3 separate regions of the Homo sapiens genome follow, and regions 1 and 3 are each linked to region 2. Evidence: fine-mapped QTL for protein levels in blood plasma. A gene starts in region 2. Each other region holds a variant in brackets. All regions are shown on one strand. Distances are from middle to middle.

Region 1 (8,620 bases), 430 kb before region 2:
GAACATACTTTAATTTAAAAATACTTTATTGTGGCTGGCAGTGGCTCATGCCTGTAATCCCAACACTTTGGGAGGTGGAGGTGGGCAGATCATGAGGTCAGGATATCGAGATCATCCTGTCCAACATGGTGAAACCCCGTCTCTACTAAAAATACAAAAAATAGCTAGGGGTGGTGGTGCGTGCCTGTAGTCCCAGCTACTCGGGAGGCTGAGGCAGGAGAATCGCTTGAACCCAGGAGGCAGAGGTTGCAGTGAGCCGAGATCACGGCACTGCATTCCAGCCTGGCGACAGAGTGAGACTCTGTCTCAAAGCAAAAAACAAACAAACAAACAAAAAAACCCCAATTTATTGCTCAAAAATGCTAACAATCATCTGACTCTTTAGTGAGTTGTAATCTTTTTGCTGGTAGAGGGTCTTGCCTTGATGTTGATGGCTGCTGATTCCTCAGGGTGGCGGTTGCTGAAGGTTGGGGTGGCTGTGGCAATTTCTGCATCATTTTTGCAGTGACTTTCTCTACTTAAGTTTGAATCCCTTGAAGCCGCCCATGAGGATTAGAATCAATTTCTTCCAAACTTCTGTTAATGTTTATATCTTGACTTCCTCCCATGAATCACAAATATTCTTTTTGGCATCAAGAATGGTGAATTCTTTTCAGAAGGGTTTAAATGTACTTTTCCCTGATCCATCAGAGGAATGACTATCTATGGCAGCTTTAGCCTTACAAAATGTATCTCTTAAATATGACTTAAAGTTGAAATTACTCCTTGATATATGGGCTACAGAATGGATACTGTGTTAGCAGGCATGAAAACATTAATGTCCTTGTACATCTCCATCAGAGCTCTTGGGTGAGCAGGTACACTGTCAAAGAGCAATAATATTTGAAAGGAATCTTTTTTTTGAGCACGAGGTCTCAACCATGGGCTTTAAATAGTAAACTCTGCTGTAAAGAGATGTGCTGTCATACCGGCTTCGTTGTTTCATTTACAGAGCACAGGCAGAATGGATTTAGCATCATTCTTAAGGGCTTAGGATTTTTCAGAATGGTACATCAGCGTTGGCTTCAACTGAAAGTCACCAGCTGCATTAGTCCGTAGTATGAGTCAGCCTGTCCTTGGACGCTTTGAAGCCAGGCATTGACTTCTCCTCTCTGGCTATCAAAATCCTAGATGGCACGTTCTTCCACTAGAAGGCTGTTTTATCTACATTGAAAATCTTTTGTTCAGTGTAGTCACTTTCATCTGTCATCTTAGGTAGATACTCTGGAGAACTTGCTGCAGTTTCTACATTAGCACTTGCTGCTGCACTTGCACTATTATGTTATGGAGACTTCTTTCCTTAAACCTCATGTACCTACCTCGGCTGGCTTCCAAGTTTTCTTCTGCAGCTTTCTCACCTCTCTCAGCCTTCACAGAATTGAAGAGAGTTGGGCCTTGCTCTAGATTAAGCTTTAGTTTAAGGGAATGTTGTGGCTGGTTTAAACTTCTATCCAGAGCATTAAAACTTTCTCCATGTCAGCAATCCAGCTGTTTTGCTTTCCTGTCATTTGTGCATTCACTGGAGTAGCACTTTTAATGTCCTTCAAGAACCTTTCCTTTGCATTCACAATGTGGCTGTTTGGCACAAGAGGTCTAGCTTTCAGTTCATCTTGGGTTTTGACATGCCTTCCGATTTAAAATGAGATATGTCGGTCTTCCTTTCACTTAAACACTTAAGAGTCCACTGTAAGGTTATTAATTGGCCTAATTTAAACATTGTTATGTCTCAGTGAATAAGGAGGCCCAAGGAGAGGGAAAGGGATGGGGGAATGGCCGGTACTGGGGCAGTGAGAACATACACGACGTTTATGGATTAAGTTCACTAGTCTTATAGGGGTATGTTTCATGACACCACAAAACAATGATCATAGTAATATCAAAGATCACTGATCGAGCTAGACATGGTAGCCCACACCTGTATTCCCAGCACTTTAGGATGCTGAGGTGGCAGGATCACTTGAGGCCACAACTTGGAGACCAGTCCAGGTAATATAGGGAGACCCCATCGCTACAAAAAATATATATACATATATAGTTTATTTTAAAAAATAAAAAAATAAACACTAAGATCTCTGATCACAGATCACCATAACAGATATAATAATGAAAAAGTGTGAAATATTGCAAGAGTTGCCAAAATGTGACACAGAGACACAAAGTGAGCACATGATACTGGAAAAAATGGGGCTGATAGACTTGCTTGAAGCAGGGTTGGCACAATCCCTTAATGTGTAAAAAGCACAATATCTGTGAAACACACGAAAGCAAAGTGCAATATAAGGTATGCCTGTATATAAAATAAACATACATAGATACTATACATATAAATGTGCATATATGTATATATTAACGTCTTCAAATAGAAACACACAAAGAACAAAGCTATGTATTAATTCATTAACATGGAACTCACAGCCAACAGCATTATAACTCACTCCTATAATATGTAAATAATGAGGATTGACTGCATTTTAAGTAAAATAACACATTATCACATAGATATAGAGTATAAGTTCCAATAATTCATCTGTAAGTCTTTCTCTCTGTTGGGGAGGGGATTAGAAATAAAGATGAGGAAGAAGATATTTCATTTTAAGATTGTATTTTGTTGCGAGTTTAATTTTAAATGGGAACTTGTTTTTGTTTGGACCACAAAACAGAACATTTAACATCTGTACTCAAAAACAATATTGATAAGCATAACTGAAGCTTCTATAATAAACTTTACAAGAAGAAAATTTCTTACTTTTAGCAGCCCACGAAATAAATTTTAAATAGCATAGAAGAAGCTGCAAATTCTCCCTATAGGTACAGATTTTATATTTTTAGTATGTCCACCCTCAGAGGCATCCATCATTCACTGAAAATCCAGGAAACTTGAGGTTTGTGGCAATAAAAGTGACTCTATATTGGATGCTAATCTGCCATGTTGACTTCTAATTAACCCCAGTCCTAAAGACGCCTCCTGAGTCCTATTTTATTTACTGTCCTTAGTGTAAGAACATGCCGGCCATTAGATCCAAGCAACCTTGATGTTATCACACAAATTATAGGCTATGACCACATAGCAGTCTTGCCTCTTCTGGAGGTTTGCCTTTAACTGTCTCTATACAGCATGTACACCCTTTCCTTATGGTATAAAAGCCCTGGGTCTGGGGAGTATTGATGCAGAGGCCTACCTGTCTTGCTGCTGCCCAAGACCATGCTTCCATCTCTAAGTTCCCCAGTAAATCATCCTTTACTGCAAACTGGTTTTGTCTGCCTTGTTCTTTGGTTCCTTGGGTCCTTCTGCATTTGGGGGCTGCTTTGTGCATGTGGCCCTTTCACAGAAGCTTATAATTAGAAAAAAATTCTTCAAATTATTAATTGTGCAACAGTTGGAACATGCAGATATACAAAAACACAAATGCTATCAAATGAATATAGTAAGGTATATTTCATATTCCATTTTTATGTTGTCCTGCAGAGCTATAATTTTCCCAAAAGACAAAAATCAAAGCTAAATTAAATACAATACTGCCTTCCCAATTCCCAGTTAAGGCAAAACAAATGTATTAAGAATTGCCTCATCAGAGGTACAAAGAGAGGGAAGCATGCCTGTGAAATCTCAAAATGGAAAAGAGAAATTGGTCATTTTCCAAAGTGGCCTCTTTCTAATGAAATTCTAGCAGAGATCTTCAAGGATAGAAATTTGGGCCAGGTGTTGGGGCCAGAACAGGAGTTCAAAACCAGCCTGGACAATGTAGCAAGACTCCATCTCTACAAAAAATTTTAGAAATTAGCTGGGAATGGTGGCATGCACCTGTAGTCTCAGGTACTCAGGAGGCTGAGACAGGAGGATTGCTTTAGCCCAGGAATTCAAAGTTGCAGTGAGCTAAAACTGCACCATAGCACTCCAGCCTGGGTGACCAAGTGAAAATCTGTGTTCCAAAAAACAAACAAACAAACAAACAAAGGATAGAAATTTATCTTTTGTTGCCTTAGAATAATTCAATAGGAATGGTTGAGGTTGCTTTCTTGAAGCACTGATTTTTATTTCAGGTCTTTCCATTGATGCGTTTGTTCTAAAACACAAAAAAAGTCCTTATTTTATAAAACAAAACCAGCAGTATAGGACTAGGCAATTGAAAGTAAGGCTACCTTGCAACACTTACCTAAACACCGGTCAATAAAGAAGGTAGTCAGTTGTAGAACACAAGGAAACATGGTCCCTCTGTTACTCACGCTTTGGGTAAAGTTTTGTCTCCCTCAAGTTCAAGTTACAGCCCTCCAAAAATTTAGTGTTGTGAGAAGTAGGCAAGGCCTGTTAGGAAAGTGCTTCCTTAGTTTTAATATAG[T/C]TGATTAACAAAACTTGAAAATTTTCTAGCTGTTCCTTGCCTGCTATTTGTTTTTCCTTTTCTTGTGCTATCAGCCAGACCTTGTGGTTCTTTTTTTTTAAGACAGGGTCTCACTCCTGTTGTCCAGGCTGGAATGCAATGCAGTTGGAGTTACCTGGTTCACTGCAATCTCTGCCTCCCAGGTTCAATTGATTCTCCTACATCAGCTTCCTGAGTAGCTGGAATTACAGGCATGTGCCACCACACCTGGCTTATTTTTGTATTTTTAGTAGAGATGGTGTTTCACCATTTTGGCCAGGCTGGTCTCGAACTCCTGACCTCAAGTAATCCACCCACCTCAGCCTCCCAAAGTGCTGGGATTACAGGCAGTGAGCCACTGCACCCTGCCAACCTTGTGGTTCCTATGGATGTATATCAACCAGGATCAAAATGCTTTTATACGTAGTGTTTTTTTTTTTTTTTCTCTGAGACATTGTCTCACTCTTTTGCCCAGGCTGGAGTGCAGTGGCATGATTTTGGCTCAATGCAACCTCTGCCACTCGGATTCAAGCAATTCTCCTACCTCAGCCTCCCAAGTAGCTGGGATTATAGGCACGTGCCACCATGCCTGGCTAATTTTTGTATTTTTAGTAGAGACGAGGTTTCACCATGTTGGCCAGGATGGTCTCCATCTCTTGACCTCGTGATCCGCCCGCCTCGGCCTCCCAAAGTGCTGGGATTACAGGTGTAAGCCACCGCACCCGGCCTTATATATAGTTCTTAATTGGGATTGTGGAGGGACTTAGTTGAAACAGATATGAAGGCTAGGCTTTCTGAGCATGGGGATAGAGAACTGTGGAGAAAGAGGATCCTCTTTTGGTGGAACTAATCCTTTTCCTTAGGGGCAATCTCTAAAGCCAGATTAAAAAATTAGTTTATCAAAATTTTGGCTTTGGGTTGATCCTAATTTCCACAATCTTAAAAGAAAATTTTCAAAAAGATGTAAAATATCTCCAATAGATTTCTTCAATATCTTTCTCTTGGTGGTAATAAGCAGCGCAAACTAATATACCTACTAAACATAATTATTTACTAAAAGTTTTTTAAAAATGCATTATTAACAGCAATATAATTACTACATAAAGTTCAAAATTTCTAATAATTCCTTTTGCTTTTGGATTGTATTCCACTAATGGTTTTCAGTGGTTGGTTCAGCTATTGGTTGTTCACGAGTCACCCAATAGCTCCCTCTCTGTGGCTGTTAGTCCTTACCTGATGAACAGTTTAGTTCAGTTTCAGTTTGCTTTATTCGTTGGCATCCTAGCAGCTGTCATTTAGAAGCTCTTACAACATTATGGCTTTCAGGTGTGGAGAGAGGAGGGTCTACTCTATTTTGAGATGATAAAAAGCACTCAAATAGGCCCAGTGCGGTGGCTAACGCCTGTAATCCCAGCACTTTGGGGGGGGCCAACGTGGGCAGATCACTTGAGGTCAGGAGTTTGAGACCAGCCTGGCCAAATGGCGGAACCCCGTCTCTACTAAAAATACAAAAATTAGCTGGGCATGGTGGTGCATGCCTGTGGTCTCAGCTACACAGGAGGCTGAGGCAGGAGAATCGCTTGAACCTGGGAGGCAGAGGGTGCAGTGAGCCAAGATTGCGCCACTCAAAAACAAACCAACAAACAAAAAACCAAATGGCTGTCTTCAAAATTATGTACAATTTTATTTTGAAACTATGTGATCCATCTAGAATGTTGAATACATAATTATAAACAGGATTCACACGCATGCTCTCTTGCTGATTAATTTTTCACCTATGATTTAATTTCTATTAAGATTAAAATATACTGTCATATACTCAGTAATTGTTCTTAAAATTTGCTAAATCCTTTAGCAAAGCTTTTCAAAGAGCAAGCTTTTTAAATTTATCTTGCTTTTTCTTTTTTTTTTTTTTTTTTTTTTTTTTTTTGAGACGGAGTCTCGTTCTGTCGCCCAGGCGGGAGTGCTGTGGCGCGATCTCCGCTCACTGCAAGCTCCGCCTTCCGGGTTCAAGCCATTCTCCTGCCTCAGCCTCCCGAGTAAGCTGGGACTACAGGCGCCCGCCACTGCGCCCGGCTAATTTTTTGTATTTTTAGTAGAGACGGGGTTTCACCGTGGTCTCGATCTCCTGACCTCGTGATCCGCCCGCCTCGGCCTCCCAAAGTGCTGGGATTACTTGCTTTTTCTAAGCTATGAACTTTTAAATTTTATAAGGTTCTCAGATCAACTTAATCTTGTTTCGTTATACTAAGTGTTTTCTGTTGCTTTTAACAGAATATCTGAAACTGGATAATTTATAAAGGAAATGAATTTATTTCTTATAGCTATGGAGGCTGAGAAGCCCAAGATCAAGGGGGTACAACTAGTGAGAGCCTTCTTGCTAGTGGGGACTCTGAAGAGCCCTGAGGCAGTGCCTGGTACCACATGGTGAGGGGGATGTGCATGCTTAAGTGCTAGCTCAGGTCTCTCTTCCTCTCCTTGTAAAGACACCAGCTCTGCTCCCATTATAACCCATTAATCCATAAGCCAATTGATCCATTTATGAGAAGAGAGCCCTCATGATCCAATCACCATGTAATGGCCCCATGCCTCTCAATACTGCCACACTGGAGATCAAGTTCCAACATGAGTTTTGAAAAAGACATTCAAACCGTACCATCAAGGTTTACCCATCTAAGGGATTCTCCCACTTAGCATTAGCTGCATCACACTAGTAGTTTTTAATTATTATTATATTTTTTTAGAGAGTCTCATTCTGTCACCCAGGCTGGAGTGCAGTGGCGTGATCTCGGCTCACTGCGACCTCCACCTCCTGGGTTCAACGATTCGCTTTTTACTTTCTTAAGAGTTATCAAGGAGATATTGAATCTTCATATTCCATATCACTAGCAGAAGAATACACGTAAATTCAGGGTCTTCAGGGCTTTGCTTAAACTGTACATAGATCAAATTCTTACTTATATAGTTGTATTTTTATTTTTATATAAATTTATATTCTTATTTTAGTTGTATACACAGTACAGAACCACAGCGTTCCAGAAACTTTTGGGTAAATAAAATTATCTGACTTTAATGCTGTGGCTTTAGGAAATTCCAACTTCCCAAAACCAAATGATTTCATAAAATACCATCACAGTGTATGAAAAAAAGAAAACAGATAACTAGAAAATATCCATTATTACAAGTTTAAACAACACTAATAAGGTTCAAATGGAAAATCTATAAATTCATATAATTTCCAATTATCTGGGTTCTGCTTGAACCAGCTCGTAAGGCACAGTGTTTATAATGATAATGCATTGTTTTACACCATATTTACATGAAGATTTAGCTTTAATACAGAAATCTAAATTCTTGCATGGTTTCAGATGTTATGCCTGAAATTCCAAAGTCTGCATTCTGTAGTAGCTGCAGTTAACACCCCAGAGGAAAAAATAAACTACATTCTTTAATTTTTTTTCTAGGGTCTGCATTCCTACTGCTTCTGGGACTTAAATCTGACATATAGGCAATTTTAAAGGTGACTCCTAAAAAAAAAAAAAAGGTGATTCCTGGGATTCTTAGAAGAATAAAATATGAAGGTATAAGTGTGATTTAAGAATAGGTGCAAAATATAAGCAGATTATGCGTCCAATAAAAAAAAAATAGGAACAAAACACAGAAGGTACCAAGGTTTTTTTGGGCACTCATTTTTTCACACTAACTACAATTTTCCCAATGTCATCTAGGAGGACCTCTGTACCTCCTCTGAGATGTGAACTGTGGGAAAACATTTTAAATGGTCCATTTTCAAGGCATGATAAATCTAAGCACTGGCAGCCAGCCTTGGTATGTAACAAACCGCACTGCTCATGCACCTAGAAGGTCACAATAAACGAACAGAATGTAGAGGAGGAGTCAGCCCATAAAAGGGAAGAAAGTTTCGTTATTGGGAAATCAAAACTTAAGGGGGGAAGGGAATGGGGTATATAACCTTACAAGGGGGATAATGAAACTTACGCGATGTCTGGGAAGACTGTAATCCCATAGTACTTAACCAATCAGAAACTGGGGGAAGGACTTGTGTGCTAGGAGATAAATTACCTGCTGTAACTGCCCCAGGTGTGCCTGCCCACCAGACACCCAATCTTGCAAGACTGCCATTAAAAGTCTTGCTTCCACTGTTCTTCAGGTCTCCAAGTCTGTTCTTTCGGTTTGGACGGGTAAATGGGTGGTTCTTAGATGAA
Region 2 (8,620 bases):
AGATCTGTTAGGAGTGTGCCAGTCATCTCAGTCCCTCAGGGAAGGCTGTTCCACCTGGCTGTGTCTAGTAGGAAGTCTTGCCCAGCCAAATCTTCATGCAAAGTCTTTAAAAATTTGTTTATGTAGTTGAATTTATTTTGCATTATAATTAGGACAGTTTTTCCCTCATCACTTATCTTTCTTCTGGTACTTCTATAATTTCTCTTTTTTTAATTTCTACATTTGGATCTCTGATCTTTTTAGAAGTATATTACTGTACAGATAGGCTAAAATTTGGATCAAATGTTAGACTTTCATTTTGTTGTATCTGCATATTGCCCATATCATCACACTGTTTTAACTATTATGATGTTTTTAGAATGTGTGCCTCAATAGCTTTCTTTTTTCCTGAATTATGAATAATTATGAATTATTGTTTTTGTTGCTCAGGTATATCTGATTAGTCTTGATTGTTATTCTTGCTCATGTAGTCTTCAGTTAATGGAATAATGGCCCAGCCTCTCAGTCCTCTGTCAGGATGATTCTAGGGCATCTTCCACTTCCCAGACAGTTCTGAACAAGCTTACATCCCAGTTGCCTACACTATTATTGTTCTCATTAACACCTGAATTATTGGCTGCTTTTCTCCCTTTTTGGTCCTACTTCCTCACTGTGCCTCCTCCAGTTGCCTTCCATATAAAGTACAAGTCTTTCCCTAGAGGTCTGCTTTTGGGAAATCCAAACTAAGAAAGAGTCATTTTTGGATTTTGACCTAGATGTAAAAGATATCAAACATTGTTACCCAAGTATGTTATATATTTGTGTGTGGTGGTAGAGAAAGAGAGGAGGAAGTAATGTGCTGTCCTAATTTAGCTGTTCAGAATATAAGGTTTTAGCTTCTTCTCCTGATTATTTCCCCATGGCCCATATCGGTTCTTTATGTTCTTTAGACTTGAAACAGTTCTGGAATGCTCTTGGGAAGAATGAATGTCATCTCCCAAGATTTGGGTTGAAGCTTGCTCTTATCTATTTTCTCCATTAACTTGATTCCATCTGTTTTATAGTTTCCAGGATTTTCTCAAGCTTTTCATATACTGCTGGCTTCTTCTCTTTCTTTCTTCAGTGTATGGATGTATATGTATGTATGTATGTATGTATACTGTTGAAGCAAAATTTGACGTATTTACTGAAGAAAATTTAAAAATACTTTACTCATTAATGAAGGGGTCAGTAATTAGATCATTTGAGGCAAATACACAAAATAACCAGGAAGAAAATTAGCTTAAATACATTAAGTTTCTAAGTAGGCACATACTGCTATTTCACTTCATATGGCCATAAAAATATCCCATGCTTATTAATGGTAGGGAGGACTAAATTTGTGGAATAGATGAATTAGAGCTATTTTCTACTTGCCAGATGTCAACCAGTAATTGGAAATAAGAAGTACCATATCTGAGAAGAAAATAAAAAGTGAATGGATCTCTGACTACCAATTGAATATACTTAGCAACAGTTTTGGTCTTTTTAATCATCTGACAAAAGGCAATTAGAACAGAGGCAACAATGAGAGGACAGCACAATTAGGACATTTCACTAACTGCAAGCAAAGATGCTGACCATACTGTTACATAATTCTGTTTGGAGACAAAATCGATCTCTCAGTCTCCCTGTCTGTCTCTCTTTTATCTCTCTCATTCCCTTTCTTTGGTTTAGTGAGTCTGTCCACCCTGCCATTTTCTACACATCACATATAAAATTTTGTATTCTACTGTTTTACCAAAAGTCATTTAGTAAATATTTCCTCTGATATGACATATTTTTAATATTCATTAGATTTAAAGACAAATAAGAATCCATAGAGTGACTATATCATTGTTTATGTATTCACCTGCAAAGATGTGTTTTGCACTTTTAAATTAATGAGTGACTTGTGAAGTGATATTTTGAAAGTATAAATATGCTATTCCTCAATAATTATTCACCTATGACTTTATCATTCTTTCATGAAACTGGCCTAAATCAGCTATTACTATGGTGGTTACAAATGTTTATGCTTTGTTTCTAACTACAATTATTAGTTGGCATTCTTCTGTAGAGAAGAACTTTCCTTTCCCAATTTTTAATTTTGTATTGGTATAGGTTCATGAATTTAAAAAAATTCCTGTGTTATAATATATTCCAGTAATTATTTATTTTAATTATCAAGTTCTCATCGGCTTCCATTGCATTTAAAAAACTCTTTTTACTTTAAAGGCCTGGTGTGGTGGCTCATGCCTGTAATCCCAGCACTTTGGGAGGCTGAGGTGGACGGATCACAGGGTCTGGAGATCAAGACCATCCTGGCTAACACAGTAAAACCCCATCTCAACTAAAAATACAAAAAATATCCTGGCATGGTGGGGTGCACCTGTAATCCCAGCTACTCAGGAAGCTGTAGTAGGAGAATCGCTTGGACCCGGGAGGCAGAGGTTGCAGTGAGACACGATCACGCCACTGCACTCCAGCCTGGGTGACAGAGTGAGACTGTCTCAAAAAAAAAGGTAATAAAAAATATATATATTTAAGGCGTGCAAGATGATGTTTTGAATACATATACATAGTGACTTGAGTACTACAGCCAAGCTAATCAACGCATCCGTCTCTTGACGTATTTTATTTATTTATTTATTTTTGAGACAGAGTCTTGCTCTGTCCCCCAAGCTGGAGTGCAGTGCGCGATCTCGGCTCACTGCAACCTCTGCCTCCCAGGTTTAAGTGATTCTCATGCCTCAGTCACCTGAGTAGCTGGGATTACAGGCGCATGCCACCACTCCCAGCTAATTTTTGTAGAGACAGGGTTTTGCCATGTTGGCGCAGGTTGGTCTTGACCTCCTGGCCTCAAGAGATCCACCTGCCTCGGCTTCCCAAAGTGCTGGCATTACAGGTGTGAGCCACCACGCCCAGCCAGTTATCTATTTTTTTTTCTTTTAAGACAGTGTGAATTCTTAAGACCTAGTCTCTTAGCATATTCTAAGCATACAATACAGTATTATTAGCTGTAGTCCATGTGATGCATTTGAACTTACTCATTCTACGTAACTGAAACTTTGCACCCTTTGACAAGCATCTCCCCATTTCCTCTACCTCCTGCCCTTGATAACCACCATTTTATGCTCTGTTTCTAGTTTGATTTTTTAGATTCCACATATAAGTAGGATTATGCAGTGCTTTTCTTTCTGTGTCTGATTTATTTCACTTAACATGATGTTCTCCAGGTTCATCCACATATTCTCATATGGCAGAATTTCCTTCTTTTTAAAGATTAAATAGTATTCCATTGTGTGTGTGTGTGTGTGTGTGTGCGTGTGAGATTTATTTATTTATTTAGTTTTTTATATGTTGACTGACAGGTTGTTTTCATATTTTGGCTATTGTGAATAATGAGGTAATAAACACCGAAGTGCAGGTATATCTTCTTAATTTTTTATTTTTAATTTTTGTGAGTACATAGTAGGCGTACATATTTATATATCTTTGAGATACTGATTTCACTTCCTTTGGATATATATGCATAAGAGAGATTGCTTGATTATATCTGTTCTGGCCCTTTGTTCCTTTAACATTTGCAGTATTTTAAGTTTTTTTTTGGTTGTCTATTTGATTAAGTATTGTGCATACTTAGCCTGTGGACTTTTGTTCCAACTCAGTAGATTTTTTCCAGCGAAACACAAAGGTAATTTTTTTTTCTGGTTAATATTTAGCAAGAATTCTGCAGAGTGATCAAAAAAATCAAATACTCAGTATTTCAGAAATAGATTAAATAGGTTACTTTTTTACTGATAATGTGAAAGAATGATATAAAAACTTGATTTTCCTCAACAACATTACTTTCTTTTGTAAATGTGGTTTCTACAAAGATGAAACTACTAAAACTTACAGGTTTTATTTTTTTCTTGTTTTTTTTGACTGAATCCCTAACCCTGCCCACACAACCTCGGGATATAGGTAAGAAATTTACTTGTATATCAGCTAAAGCATGACCAGTTAGGATAATTTCTATTTTTAAAATTTTGTTTTCTTTCAAGTTAATTCTTTACTTGCTTTTTTCACCCTCTCACTAATTTACATAGGCTAACCAGTTATCCAAAACTAACCTTTTCAGAATTTTTATTTTGATGGTAATTTTTATATTACCAAGTCTATATGAAGAAAGAGTTGTCACATCTGAAGAATAATCAGCAGTCTATGACAGGACAGAAAGTGTTGCTGGGAGATACATTTGGATTTTAATGTTGGTATTTCTTGCATATATGTATAGTTTATGGTAACAGTGGAACAATAGATGTTAACTGGGATTTTTCTGGAACCTTTGGTTGTCCAACATATTTCCCAACTATATCTTTATGGAATGCAGAACCTAGTTCCTCCTTCAACTGTACAGTTTGAACATCCCTCCTGAGCCTGGCCAAGGCCATCTCAGTCTGTAGGAAGGGATGACTTTTTTTATTTCTTCCATCCAAAGGGGAAATATTTTGAACCTCATATGTCTAGAGGAGGTGTCTTTTTCTAATCCTTTTTGGCCTAGAAGGAGCTCCTTTCTTTGACTTGAACAAATGTGCCCTAAGCATGGCAGTGGCCCTGAAGGCATGGATCGTGTCTTACGTGTCTTACTCAATTTGACATGCCCCTACAATACCAGCTAGTGAAGACTGGTCATTTCTGAGTTTTCCTGCTCCTTTTCCCTCGTAACAACCTGTTTCAAAATCTTGATTTTTTGCCTCTTTAATATCTTTTGTATCTATATTTTCCTTTTCATTTCCATTACTCCTACCAAAATTTAGATCTTGCTGATTTCTCAGTGTGACAGTTGCAAAGTCTCCTATGGCCTTCTTACTTTGTCCCATCCACCCTTCTTTTGCCCATTTATTTGACAATAGTTCTTTCTACCTTTTTCTATTTGTCTGGCACTGTGGAAAGTCCCATGACATTACATATACCACTACCTGACTCGTATTTCTTAGTGTATAGAAATGATCAGATTACTATCCTATATAAACATTTTCCAGGGCTCTCCATGTCTTCCAAATGAAGCCCATACTCCTTAGCTTTATATACAAGACTCCTATAATCTGGGCCCAGGTTCTTTCTATCCTAGGTACCATTATTCCTCTTTGTGACCCACTTTCTCATCAAAATAGATTGACTTTCCCTAAATACTTCTCAAGATTTCTTAATGCATTTATTCACATCATTCTCTCTCCACACAGACAGACAGGGTTTTTCATTTTTCCGTCAGCTGAATCTCTTACATTTACTCATGCTCAACTCATATCTCACTCCTCCTATAATCCTTTTTTTTCTTTCTTTCTCACCCAGGATTCATAAAGCATTCCCAACTTAATCCCATTCTAAATTAGATTATTGTCACATGCACGAGTAACTTCTATTAGAGAGCAGCTTAGGAACCTGATGTCAAGGGGAGATATTTTAGTCATTGTTGATTGCTTCACAGGGTCCAGCACAACACTTTGCAAAAAATAAATGTAGCTTATGTGAACAAACATAAATATGCTCCAATTAGTGTATGCTCATTGGGAGGGAATCCATGATTTTAGGTGGATCTGGAGATGACCTAAATAGCTGTGACTGAGTAGCGCTAAAAACTATGCTGACCACCAGCATGCTACAGCATCTCTCATCAGGCTCTGTTATGGCATTGAATCAGCCATTAGTTAATCTTCATATCACTTCTCTAGTCATAAATGATAGACATTTAGCATGGTAATGTATTTGACATTTCTATCTGGGGAGCCATCAATGGCAAATTTAAAGTCTAGTCAGATTAAGATTTATTTAGGTCAATTCAATTTGGTAAATATTTCTTGAACACATAATCAACAATGACTAAGATTTCCTATTTTGTTCACATGACTTATTTGTTTCTTGTTAAATATGCAAAATTATCTCCTGTCATCAGTGGTCTATTTTGTATTTTATACACTTAAATGCCATGTATAGTTATTTATTTGAAAAATGTTAGAAAACCATGCTATGTAATAACCTAAATATTCTTGCTTTTCAGAGAACTTCAATAGTACTCAAAAATTTATAGAAGATAATATTGAATACATGTGAGTTGTGCTAAATACTTTTTGATGATGATTTTTAAAATGATATATTCTAGAAATGTTAATGCTTCTCAAAAGTAATTTAACTAAATAGAAGCCATATCCAAGAAGACAACTTTAATTATAAAATTCAGGCAAAGAAGTTGTAAAATTTATAGCCATTACAATAGATAATTTCCTGAGGCTAGTCAGGATGTTCCTGTGACTTTTTCTTGACCATAAATGGAAACTCTGCAACTGATCTTTGTATACCCCATGTGAACTGTTGCAGCACCATCATTGCATTTGCTCAGTATGTTCAGGAAGCAACCTTTGAAGAAATGGAAAAGCTGGTGAAAGACATGGTAGAATACAAAGACAGATGTATGGCTGACAAGACGCTCCCAGAGTGTTCAAAATTACCTGTAAGTAAATTGCTTGTGTTTCTTTTCCTTTTATCTTATGTCTTTCTTTCTCTTTCTTTCTTTCTTTCTTTCTTTCTTTCTTTCTTTCTTTCTTTCTTTCTTTCTTTCTTTCTTTCATTCTTTCTTTCTTCTTTCTTTCTTTCTTTCCTTCTTTTTTTTTTCTTGAAACAGAGTCTCGCTCTGTCACCCAGGCTGGAGTGCAGTGGCAATCTTGGCTCACTGCAACCTCCACTTCCTGGGTTCAGGCAATTCTCATGCCTCAGTCTCCCTAGTAGCTGGGATCACAGGCATGCACCACCATGCCCAGCTAATTTTTTTGTATTTTTAGTAGAGATGAGGTTTTGCCATGTTGACCAGCCTGGTCTCAAACTCCTGACCCCAAGTGATCCTCCCAACTTGGCCTCCCAAAGTGTTGGGATTGCAGGCGTGAGCCACTGTGCCCTGCCAATTGCTTGTGTTTCTTAAACACACAAGATTTTTTGCCCAACACTGAGAAAATTTCTGGCTTGAAAATATGAAATGAAAGATGTTCTGTGCGCAGCATTTTCATTTTGCTTAATTTTGGTATTTAGAACAAGGTACTTTCCTTGGAAAAGATACTAATTCTGTATTTTGATGCACAGAAGGAGATTGCTGTGTATTTGCAGTATGTATACAGTATGCCCTATATGTTCAGGCAGAAGAGGAAGCCATAGCTTGAAACTGCACATGAAATTACAGAGGTACCTCCTTAGCTGCCTCTCTCAATATGTATTCTATTGTTACATCCCTTTTCTGGGCCTCCTCCAAGTAGAATCACTATCTGCATCTCCAAAAAACTACTACTAAACACTACTTCTAAACACTCTACCAATACATTAACATACCAGCATGTCATCACCTTGGGAGGTGAGTAGAAAAGCCTGGTGGAAGGGAAATGTAGGCAGCAAGGGAAGAGTAAGAGGTGGAAGTGTCTTGTGACAAGACAGAGGAACAAAGATTCTGAAAGTGCAGGATGATTGTCAAGGGTTTGGGTAAAAATGCTTTGATTTGGCACACCTGTTCTCCCAGCTATTTAGGACACTTTGGCTGGAGGATCACTTGAGCCCAGGAGTTCGAATCTAGCCTGCACAACATATCAAGATCCCATTCCAAAGAAGAAGCAGAAAACAAGGAGAAGGAGAAGGAGGAGAAGGAGAAGGAGAAAGAGAAGGAGAAGGAGAAGAGGAAGAGGAAGAGGAAGAGGAAGAAGAAGAAGAAAAAGAAGAGGAAGAAGAAGAAGAAGGGGAGGAGGAGGAGGAGGAGGAGGTGGAAGAGAAGGAGGGGGGGAAGGGAAGGAGAAGGGGAAGGGGAAGGGGAAGGAGAGGAGTAGGAGAAAGAGAAGGAGCTCTGTTGGTAATGGTGGGAAAATTAGTCATTGTGTTTTCTCAGTGAGTACAGAAGCTTTACTTTACCATGACTAAAAATTGTCCTTTTCTTCTCTGTTGTATAGAATAATGTTTTACAGGAAAAAATATGTGCTATGGAGGGGCTGCCACAAAAGCATAATTTCTCACACTGCTGCAGTAAGGTTGATGCTCAAAGAAGACTCTGTTTCTTCTATAACAAGAAATCTGATGTGGGATTTCTGCCTCCTTTCCCTACCCTGGATCCCGAAGAGAAATGCCAGGCTTATGAAAGTAACAGAGAATCCCTTTTAAATCAGTAAGTTTAATCTTAGTAAAAAATGATCCAGTTGAAGAATTAGTCTTAGGCTGAATCTAATATCTATCTCAAATAAATATGGCTGGGTTCATTAATTTATTGATTAATTGTTTCATTCATTCAAAACATACTGTGTGTCAGATACTGTGCTCAGTGTTCAGGATATAACTATGATCAAGATATGGACCCTGCTTACAAGACCATTATATTAACGAATTTTATCTTCTAATTGGTAAGTCCTAGAGCAGAGGTGTGTACATGGTGTTAAATTGGTAGGATGCACAGTAGAGGAAATAATATACTCTTCCCAAGGGGAAGTTGCTGTTTTCACCTCAGGCAGACATTCAATTACAGGATGTTTAGCAAAACATCTGTTTTTAATATAGTGCTGTCATTGCAGAAACAGACTTTTTCTGGAAGGTTGGTATGCTCCTTGAAATCTAA
Region 3 (8,620 bases), 91 kb before region 2:
GCTTGTTGGATTAAGTTCCTTCTAGATTTTGCATATTAGACTTTCGTTGGATGCATAGTTTGCAAGTATTTTGTCCCATTCTGTACGCTGTCTTACTCTCTTGACAGTTTCTTTTGCTGAGCAGAGGCTCTTTAGTTTAATTAGGTCCCACTTGTCAATTTTTGTTTTTGTTGCAATTGCTTTTGAGGACTTAGTCATAAATTCTTTCCTAAGGCTGATGTCCTGAATGGTATTTCCTAGGTTTTCTTCTAGGATTCTAATAGTTAGAGGTCTTATGTTTCAATCTTTAATCTATCTTGAGTTAATTTTTCAGAGATCATATTCTTATTACTTTCCTCCACATCTGTTTTTTCTCCCCATCCTGATAGATTATTTCTAGCATCTTCTCAGATCCTTTTCTCTTTCTCAAATATTTCTCCCAAACATTCTGCTTATGTCAAGAATGCTTTCAGTTCCTCTAGGAGCTTAGGTTTTAGAAACTAACATTAAAAAAGAAACCCTTTGTTCATGCTTTTCATCCTTTACCTCCCTCCTCCAAAGCATTTAGCACACAATGACTCAACAGGTTGATGACAAAAATTGACATTTTCTAAAGAAAAAAAGAGAGTGTACTAGATCAAGAAATGTTATCCCATCACATAGTTATTAATATTTATTTTACTTTGTGGGGTTGGGTTGGCTTCAGTTTGTGTGTTTTTGTAACCATCCAGATGACAGTGATGGCAGTGTCAACCCCAAAGATTTTGGGAATCCTATAAAATAAAGCAAACCGGAGGGTTTTTCTTGACATTTTTTTCAATCGATATGTCTTAGTTGTCCATATTTTTCAGGTACATGTAATATTTTGATATGTGTGTATAAGGTATAATCATCATATCAGGATAATTGGGATATCTAACACCTCAAACATTTATCTTTTCTTTGTGTTGGGAATATTACAATTTTTCTCTTATAGGTGTTTTGAAATATAAATTATGATTCACTTCTTACTGTAGTATCAAATACTAGAATTTGTTCTTCTACTTAACTGTATTTTTGTATTAATCAAAGGCATTTTTATGTCATATTAAAACAGAAGTTAAGGATCTTCAGAGAAATGCTCTCTACCATGACACTATTTTTTGAATGATAAATGAGGATTATTTAACAATGAGCCCTAATTCATTTTGAAAAACAATTAGTACTAAATATCAGAAAAACGTATGAATTATACATAGTAAATATTATCTTCTGTATTTGTAGTGTAAACTGAGACACCAAAAAGTAACTCACCCCGAGTTTAGTGGCTGACCTAGTGGCCGACGTGTTTTAACATTTATATGCAGGTTTCTGCTATGCACCTAGCACTATTCTAAGCACTGTCCCTGAAATCATTTTCGAATTTGTGTGTAATATGACACTCATTGCAATTTTTAAAGGACTTTTTCACATTGGAAGGGGTAAAGTAATTTTCCCAGGGACTGTAGAAAACTGACATTATAATCCTGAGTTTTATTTCACCATATTGTTTCTTATAAATGTCTGTCCACCAATGTGTTAAAAATGGGCTCAGCAGAGTATGTGGGATATAACAATAAAATATATTTTTAGTATTTCCCAAAATTAGATCACTGTCATATTTAAGTGAATGATTCTTTTATTATATTAATCATTGCAGGTTTTAGAGCTGTAAACTGTCAACCGCATTACAGAATGATGAGACTCATTTGTTGATTCTCTGCCCATGAAATCTCCAGTTGATACACAAATGCCAGACTCAGCATTTCTCCTTCTCCCAGAGATAGGCTAGTTCTTGAAGGTCATTTTTTTTGTGTAGACTTTCTGTAATTCATTTGCTCAGAGTATACTTTTCAATGGACATAGTTCACTCCTTGTTGATTAGAGTTGTAGAGTATTTGCTGTCTGCCTGAGTTTTGCAAATTATCAGTGGTAAAGGATTAAAGTGTAAACATAAGGTCAATGGCCTTCAAAGTGGTGGATGGGCTGATATTACAGTTTAAAAATATTTAAATACATTTATTCTTTAATATATTGAAGGATTTCTACAGGGCATATTTTTTAGGCAACAGAAATGAACTATGATCAGAGGCGATTCTAAAGTGTAAGGTGTTGGATCTTCTATATCTTAAATTTTGAAAGTACTATGAATGAATGGAAGTACATATTGCTTATTATTCTATTAAGCTATCACAGTCTCCTATCTTAGATTAGAGATTTTTTTGGTGTGTCTTTGCTTTTAATTTGCAAAATCCGTGTAAGGAATTAATGTGCATATTAATATTTTTGTGCTTCACAAAGGCTTAAAATTGTTTTTTTTTTCTTTTTTTAAATTATACTTTAAGTTCTGGGGTACATGTGCAGAATGTGCAGGTTTGTTACGCAGGTTTACATCTGCCATGGTGGTTTGCTGAACCCATCAACCCCTCACCTACATTAGGTATTTCGCCTAATGTTATCCCTCCCCTAGCCCCAAACTCCTTGACAGGCCCTGGTGTGTGATGTTCCCTTCCGTGTGTCCATGTGTTCTCATTGTTCAACTCCCACTTATGAGTGAGAACATGCAGTTTCTGGTTTTCTGTTCTTGTGGTAGTTTGCTGAGAATGATGGTTTCCAGCTTCATCCATGTCCCTGCAAAGGACATGAACTCATCCTTTTTATGGCTGCATAGTATTCCATGGTGTGTATGTGCCACATTTTCTTTATCTAGTCTATCACTGATGGACATTTGGGTTAGCTCCAAGTCTTTGCTCTAGTGAATAGTGCCACAATAAACATATGTGTGCATGTGTCTTTGTAGTAGAATGATTTATAATCCTTTGGGTATATACCAAGTAATGGGATTGCTGGGTCAAATGGTATTTCTAGTTCGAGATCCTTGAGGAATCGCCACACTGTCTTCCACTATGGTTGAACTAATTTACACTCCCGCCAACAGTGTAAAAGCATTCCTATTTCTCAACATCCTCTCCAGCATCTCTTGTTTCCTGACTTTTTAATGATCACCATACTAACTGACATGAGATGGTATCTCATTGTGGTTCTGATTTGCATTTCTCTAATGACCAGTGATGATGAGCTTTTTAATAGCTTGTTGGCTGCAAATATGTCTTCTTTTGAGAAGTGTCTGTTCATATTCTTTCCCACTTTTTGATGGGGTTGTTTGTTTTTTCTTGTACATTTATTTAAGTTCTTTGTAGATTCTGGATATTGCCCTTCATCAGATGGATAGATTGCAAAAATTTTCTCCAATTCTGTAGGTTGTCTGTTCATTCTGATGATGATTTCTTTTGCTGTGCAGAAGCTCTTTAGTTTAATTAGATCCCATTTGTCAATTTTGGCTTCTCTTGTCATTGCTTTTGGTGTTTTAGACATGAAGTCGTTACCCATGCCTATGTCCTGAATGGTATTGCCTAGATTTTCTTCTAGGAATTTTATGGTTTTAGGTCTTACGTTTAAGTCTTTAATCCATCTTGAGTTAATTTTTGTATAAGATGTAAGGAGTTTCTGCATATGCCTAACCAGTAAAACTGTTTTTAAAACAATGTAAAATCTCAAGAAAGATTTTGAGTTAACTCTTTGTCCAAATCAAACACAACTGGAAATCTATCTTGTTCTCTGCACAGATTATTTAAATCTTAGTGTCAAGATACATAGGCACCAATATATATATCACCAAGATAGGTATTATGTCTCTAAATCAGAGTGTGATGTGATTATCCAGTAATGGTTCATGGGGATAACCAAGTGATAGTAGAAAAAAAAAATTAATTTGGAACTCAGTAGGACTGCAAATAAGTAAAAATGGAAGCCTGGAAACTGAAAACAAATTCAAATTAAGTTTTCCTATCAAGGTAAACTTAGTTTTTATTTTGTTTCATATATGTATGACCAATTAATAATAACTTAGTGAGTTTGCCCCATATGTTTCACCATATATTTAGCTCTCTTAAGTACTGTTGGTGACAAATAAATAAAATAACTGGGAATTTATGGCCCCTGCTGTCTTTAAAGTGCTTATAAGTTAGTTATAGAATAATAATAACATTCCTAACTCTGCTGCTAACCAGCAACATTACATTGCATAAGTGTCTGAGTCTACTTTTCTAGACTTGTACATCACAGATGCTCCTGATTTTCCTCTTACATTTCACCTTCTCCTTTTCACTGGCTTCCTCTGGCCTCCCCTCCACCCTCAGACTTCTAAATGTAGAATGGAAGTTTCCGCCCTCAGCACTCATCTCTTTCCTGTCTACATTTTCCTCCTGGGTGATCAGATGATCTCTTTGAATACTATCTATGTACTAATTTTTTTCGAATTTTTATCCTTTGCCAGAAGTCCTCCCTTGAATTCTAGATTCATATATTACACAACATCACATTTTTACCAGGATGTCTAACAAGTATTTCAAACTTAACAAGGCCAAACAGAACTAGTAACTACCTTCCTTAAGCCTAGTGTATATCCTCCCATTTCCCCCTTTCCATGTACCCCCCATTCCCAGTCTTTTCCATTTCCGTAAATGGTGACAACATTTTCTCAGTTGTTTAGGTCAAAACCTGAGTCATTACTGAATCTTTTTCTTTCTTACATTTCACACCTAATTTTTCAGTAATTACTGGCAGTGCTACTCACAAAACATATTCAGAATGAAAACATTTTCAGAATATTCAGACCACTGCTGACCACTTTGTATGCTATTACCAGCATTCAGATCTCAATGAGAGTGTTACTTCCTCAGACAGCCCTTCTCTGACACCCTCAGGAAAGCTGTAGTCCTTCACTATCATACTCACTCTCAGTACCTGATTTTATTATCATCTTCAACTTATCA[G/A]TACATGGAAGGTTTATTTATTTACTTGTTAATTTGCTGTCTTCTGCACTGGAATGTAAACTCTTTCAGGTCAAAGAATATGTACAGTCTATTCAATGTTGAATCCCCAGCACTTAGAATAGAGACTGGCACACGGTAAGTAATCAAAAAAATTTGCTGATGGTTTGGTTAACTGGCCTTTATATTTTAATCTGTAAAACAAAGGGAATGAAACCAATGATCTCTAAGGACTTTTCTAGGCCTAAGATTCTTTTCTATTCTCTTAATACTGGATTGGTTTGAATAATGAGGATAGCAAAATGTCCAAGTTGTACCCATTTTCTAAGACCTAGTTAAGTCACATCTCTAACCACTTGGACCCATAGATCTTTCTTCCTTCCTGCGTGAACAACCATAGAGTCTCTGTGGGTTAGTTCATGGCTAGCCAAATACCTTTGCCTTATTAGTTAAGTGCGCTTGCATGCATATTTGTAATTGCAATTTCACTTGAACACTTTTGAAGTAAGACCCTGTGCTTGTCCCCCCTGCTTTTTCTTATAGCATTAATGATAACACTAGTTAAAATTCACTGAGTGTCAATATGAGGCAGGCAATGTTTATACTTGATGAGCATTAACTAATTTAATTTTTACAGCTACCCCATAAATTAAGATTATTATTTATTCTCAAGAGAGAAAATCAAGGCATAGCATGTTGAAGTACCTTACCCACACAACTAGTAAGAAGTGGAGCTGGTATTCAAACTTGAGAAGTCTAATTCCAAACTAGTGCTCTTAATCAATACACGATAATATTTCATGTGGTACCTAGCTCAGACACTAGAAATATGTGGGAAATAGAACAGACACTAGATATTCATTTGAGTGAGCTCGGTGAATAAATAAGAAATAGATAAAAATGTGCAGCGGTAGTTCTATGAAGTGACTGTATATCTCACCCAGAAAATCTCTAGGTAATTACTGGAAAGACTCTCATTCTCATGAATACCTGGTTTTATTCTGACTGCTGCCTTCACATGGCTTGCATTTTTGTATTTATCATTCCACTTCACTCTGCTTCTGCTTAATCCAGCAGTTTTGTATCTGAGCAACCATCTGTCTTTAAACAAATTCCACAGATGTAATCATCAGTACAGCTAAACCAAAAACAAATTCAAACCTAATCTTCCCAGAAGAGCAGAACTTGGTGTAGGTTAGAAAGACTTTAAGTGTTTTAAAGAGTATTCTTTTTACCTGTTTTCTAGCAGTGATGAAGTAATAAGTAAAAAGAATGTCAGTTAAAATATAAAATAAAGCTTTGTGTGGCTGTTTAAAAAATTGTAGAATAGGCCAGATGCGGTGGCTTACGCCTGTAATCCCAGCACTTTGGAAGGCTAAGGTGTGTGGACCACCTGAGGTCAGGAGTTCAAGACTAGCCTGGCCAACATGGTGAAACCCCCGTCTCTACTAAAAATACAAAAATTAGCGGGGCCTGTCATCCCAGCTGCTCAGGAGGCTGAGGCAGGAGAATCGCTTGAACCTGGGAGGCCGAGGTTGCAGGGAGCCGGAATCACACCATTGCACTCCAGCCTGGGTGACAAGAGCAAGACTCAGTCTCAAGAAAAAAGAAATGGTAGAATAAAGCAATATGAAATAGTAGATTTCATCTTGGATTTATTGTGAGACTCTGAAATTAGAACTAGTCATGGATGTTTCTCATTCCCAACATGGTTGCCAGTGTCTGTTTTCTTCTTCGGCATGTACTGCCCCATGTACTAATGATCTGTTTTGCTGCTGTGGGTTACAGGAAAGGTACAAAGAAGCCCTTATGACACTTAGAAAGCCTATTTAAGATAAGCAAATAATAAAGCACCAGACAAAAAGGGTACACCCTCATCTCAGGTCGCAATTCAATTTCCCTCCTCTCCCAAATTTTCTATTGCCAATAGCAATGAATGTAGCTTTGTCAACATAATAATAGTTTTGAGGGACTATCAGAGAATAGTTGTCCTAATTTTTTGAAAGGCATTATAGGATATATATATCTTGAATGCCTCTTTGCTGTTTTGTTCACTAGCTATTGACCTTGGGCAAGTTACTTAATCTTAGCTACTTTATGTTAACCTCAGTTTCCTCAATTGTAAAATGCAATAATGACAATGCTATTCTAGTAAGAGTACCAGAGAAGCAAATATGCCACTGCTGGTAAAGCGCTGCTGAGAACAGGGACTGGCATGTTTGAAGGCATTTTATAAGTGCTTGTTAAACAAACAGGGCATCCCCTGCTGTCCTCTTTCCCCTCACACACTCAGGGATTCAGTAGAGTTAATATAGTTCTAATACAAAATAAATACACTTAAGATTTTAGTGTTTGCAGCTTTATAATGAATAAATGCAAAATTTCTATTATTGTTATTTTCAACTACTATTGGCAACAAACTCATGGACTTTTACTGTACTTTCATGGATATCAAGGAGTTGATGGACATCAGACTGGAAGTGGCTTATTTGTTCATTTATTTATTCATTTATTCATTCAGTCAACAAATATTTATAGAGCACTTGCTACATGCTGGGAATGTATGTGATTACTTATGTGAATCTTAAATTTGCTAGAGATGGGGATATAGCAATCTTTGTTTTTTCATAATACAATCACTTGGAAATTTTTTACTCACTGAATTTAATTCATAGGTTTAATTACTATCTACTGTCTAGTACTGAACTGAGATTTTGTAAAGAATACAGTGAATAGGGAAAATGTTTACTCTTATAAAATGATTACAATTTAATAAAATCTTATAAATTCAAGAGATGTAACTAAGAATGAAAACAAAGTAATACAGGTCATCAGAAGACAGTGAGAAGAATGTAAGCCTGGGAAAAGAGAAGGTCTGGAGGTGTGCTCTGGAGATGGGAAGATTTAGATAGATACAAAGCAGGGGAAATCATCATGGTGGGAGAAAGCCCAATAAGCAGAGATTTGTGTCTGAAAATGAACATGACCCCCTGGGAAAAAGGAAGATGGCCTCATAGCACCTTGCACATCTTCTCATCTAGTATGGCATTTAATACCTTGTAGGCTTGCAAAAAATGTTACAGGGAGTATAACTGAGTTAATGGGAAAATTTATTCATGAAAGAGAATAACAGATTATATTATGGAGATCATTTCTTCACATATTTGTTCATTTGTCTACTCACCTGTTTAACAGACATTGAACACACATGCGCCAGTCATCTGCTAGCCACTGGGGATACTGCTGTGATGGAGAAAGACAGAGCTTCTGCTTTCAGGGACATTATAAACTAGTGGAATCAGATTACAGAGTATGTTGCTTTTTTTTTTTTTTTTAAATTTGGAGACAGGGTCTTGCTTTGTTGCCAGGCTGGAGTGCAGTGGCATGATTATAGCTCACCGCAGACTTAAACTCCTGGGCTCAAGAAATCTCCCACCTCAGGCTTCTGAGCAGCTGAGACTACAGGTGTGCACCACCACATCTGGGCAATTTATTTATTTATTTATTTTTGTACAGACAGGATCTCACTTTATTGTCCAGGCTAGTATCAATCTCCTGGGCTCAAGCAATCCTCCCAGTTTGGCCTTTCACAGTGTTGGGATTACAGGTCTGAGCCACCTTGTCCAGATGGATTACAGAACATTTTGAATACCAAAGCAAGAAGCTTGGCATTTATTTAAAATGTAATGGGGAACCAATAAAATATCTTAAGGAGAGGAAAGTTTTGGTATTAATCAGAGTAGATAGGGACTAGAAATATGATCATTAATTCAGAGTTTATTGTAATAACT

Direction of the effects. Alleles are on the strand shown, and positions count from the first base shown. The strength of an association depends on the size of the effect and on how common the allele is.
For the plasma level of the protein whose gene starts at base 3,848 in region 2, T is the high allele of the variant in region 1 and C is the other (weak association).
For the plasma level of the protein whose gene starts at base 3,848 in region 2, G is the high allele of the variant in region 3 and A is the other (moderate association).

The links. PIP is the chance, under the fine-mapping model, that this variant and not a neighbour inherited with it causes the effect. Protein levels are from antibody-based Olink assays in UK Biobank. Linkage for the fine-mapping came from a reference panel and not from the study's own genotypes, which makes the PIPs less certain.
Region 1: its variant is fine-mapped to the plasma level of the AFM protein (UK Biobank, PIP above 0.99).
Region 3: its variant is fine-mapped to the plasma level of the AFM protein (UK Biobank, PIP above 0.99).

The regions. Positions count from the first base shown.
Region 1 is chr4:73,045,015-73,053,634 of GRCh38, forward strand. COX18 (cytochrome c oxidase assembly factor COX18) reads right to left here. Exons shown (of 6, transcript NM_001297732.2): 6 at 7,348-8,620. Among named protein-coding and RNA genes, the nearest start is that of COX18, 20 kb to the right of the region's middle. The variant T/C (reference allele first, on the strand shown) is at 4,377.
Region 2 is chr4:73,477,898-73,486,517 of GRCh38, forward strand. AFM (afamin) reads left to right here and starts at 3,848. Exons shown (of 15, transcript NM_001133.2): 1 at 3,848-3,966; 2 at 6,044-6,092; 3 at 6,361-6,493; 4 at 7,965-8,176. The coding sequence starts at 3,879.
Region 3 is chr4:73,387,244-73,395,863 of GRCh38, forward strand. No RefSeq gene overlaps it. Among named protein-coding and RNA genes, the nearest start is that of ALB, 13 kb to the right of the region's middle. The variant G/A (reference allele first, on the strand shown) is at 4,833.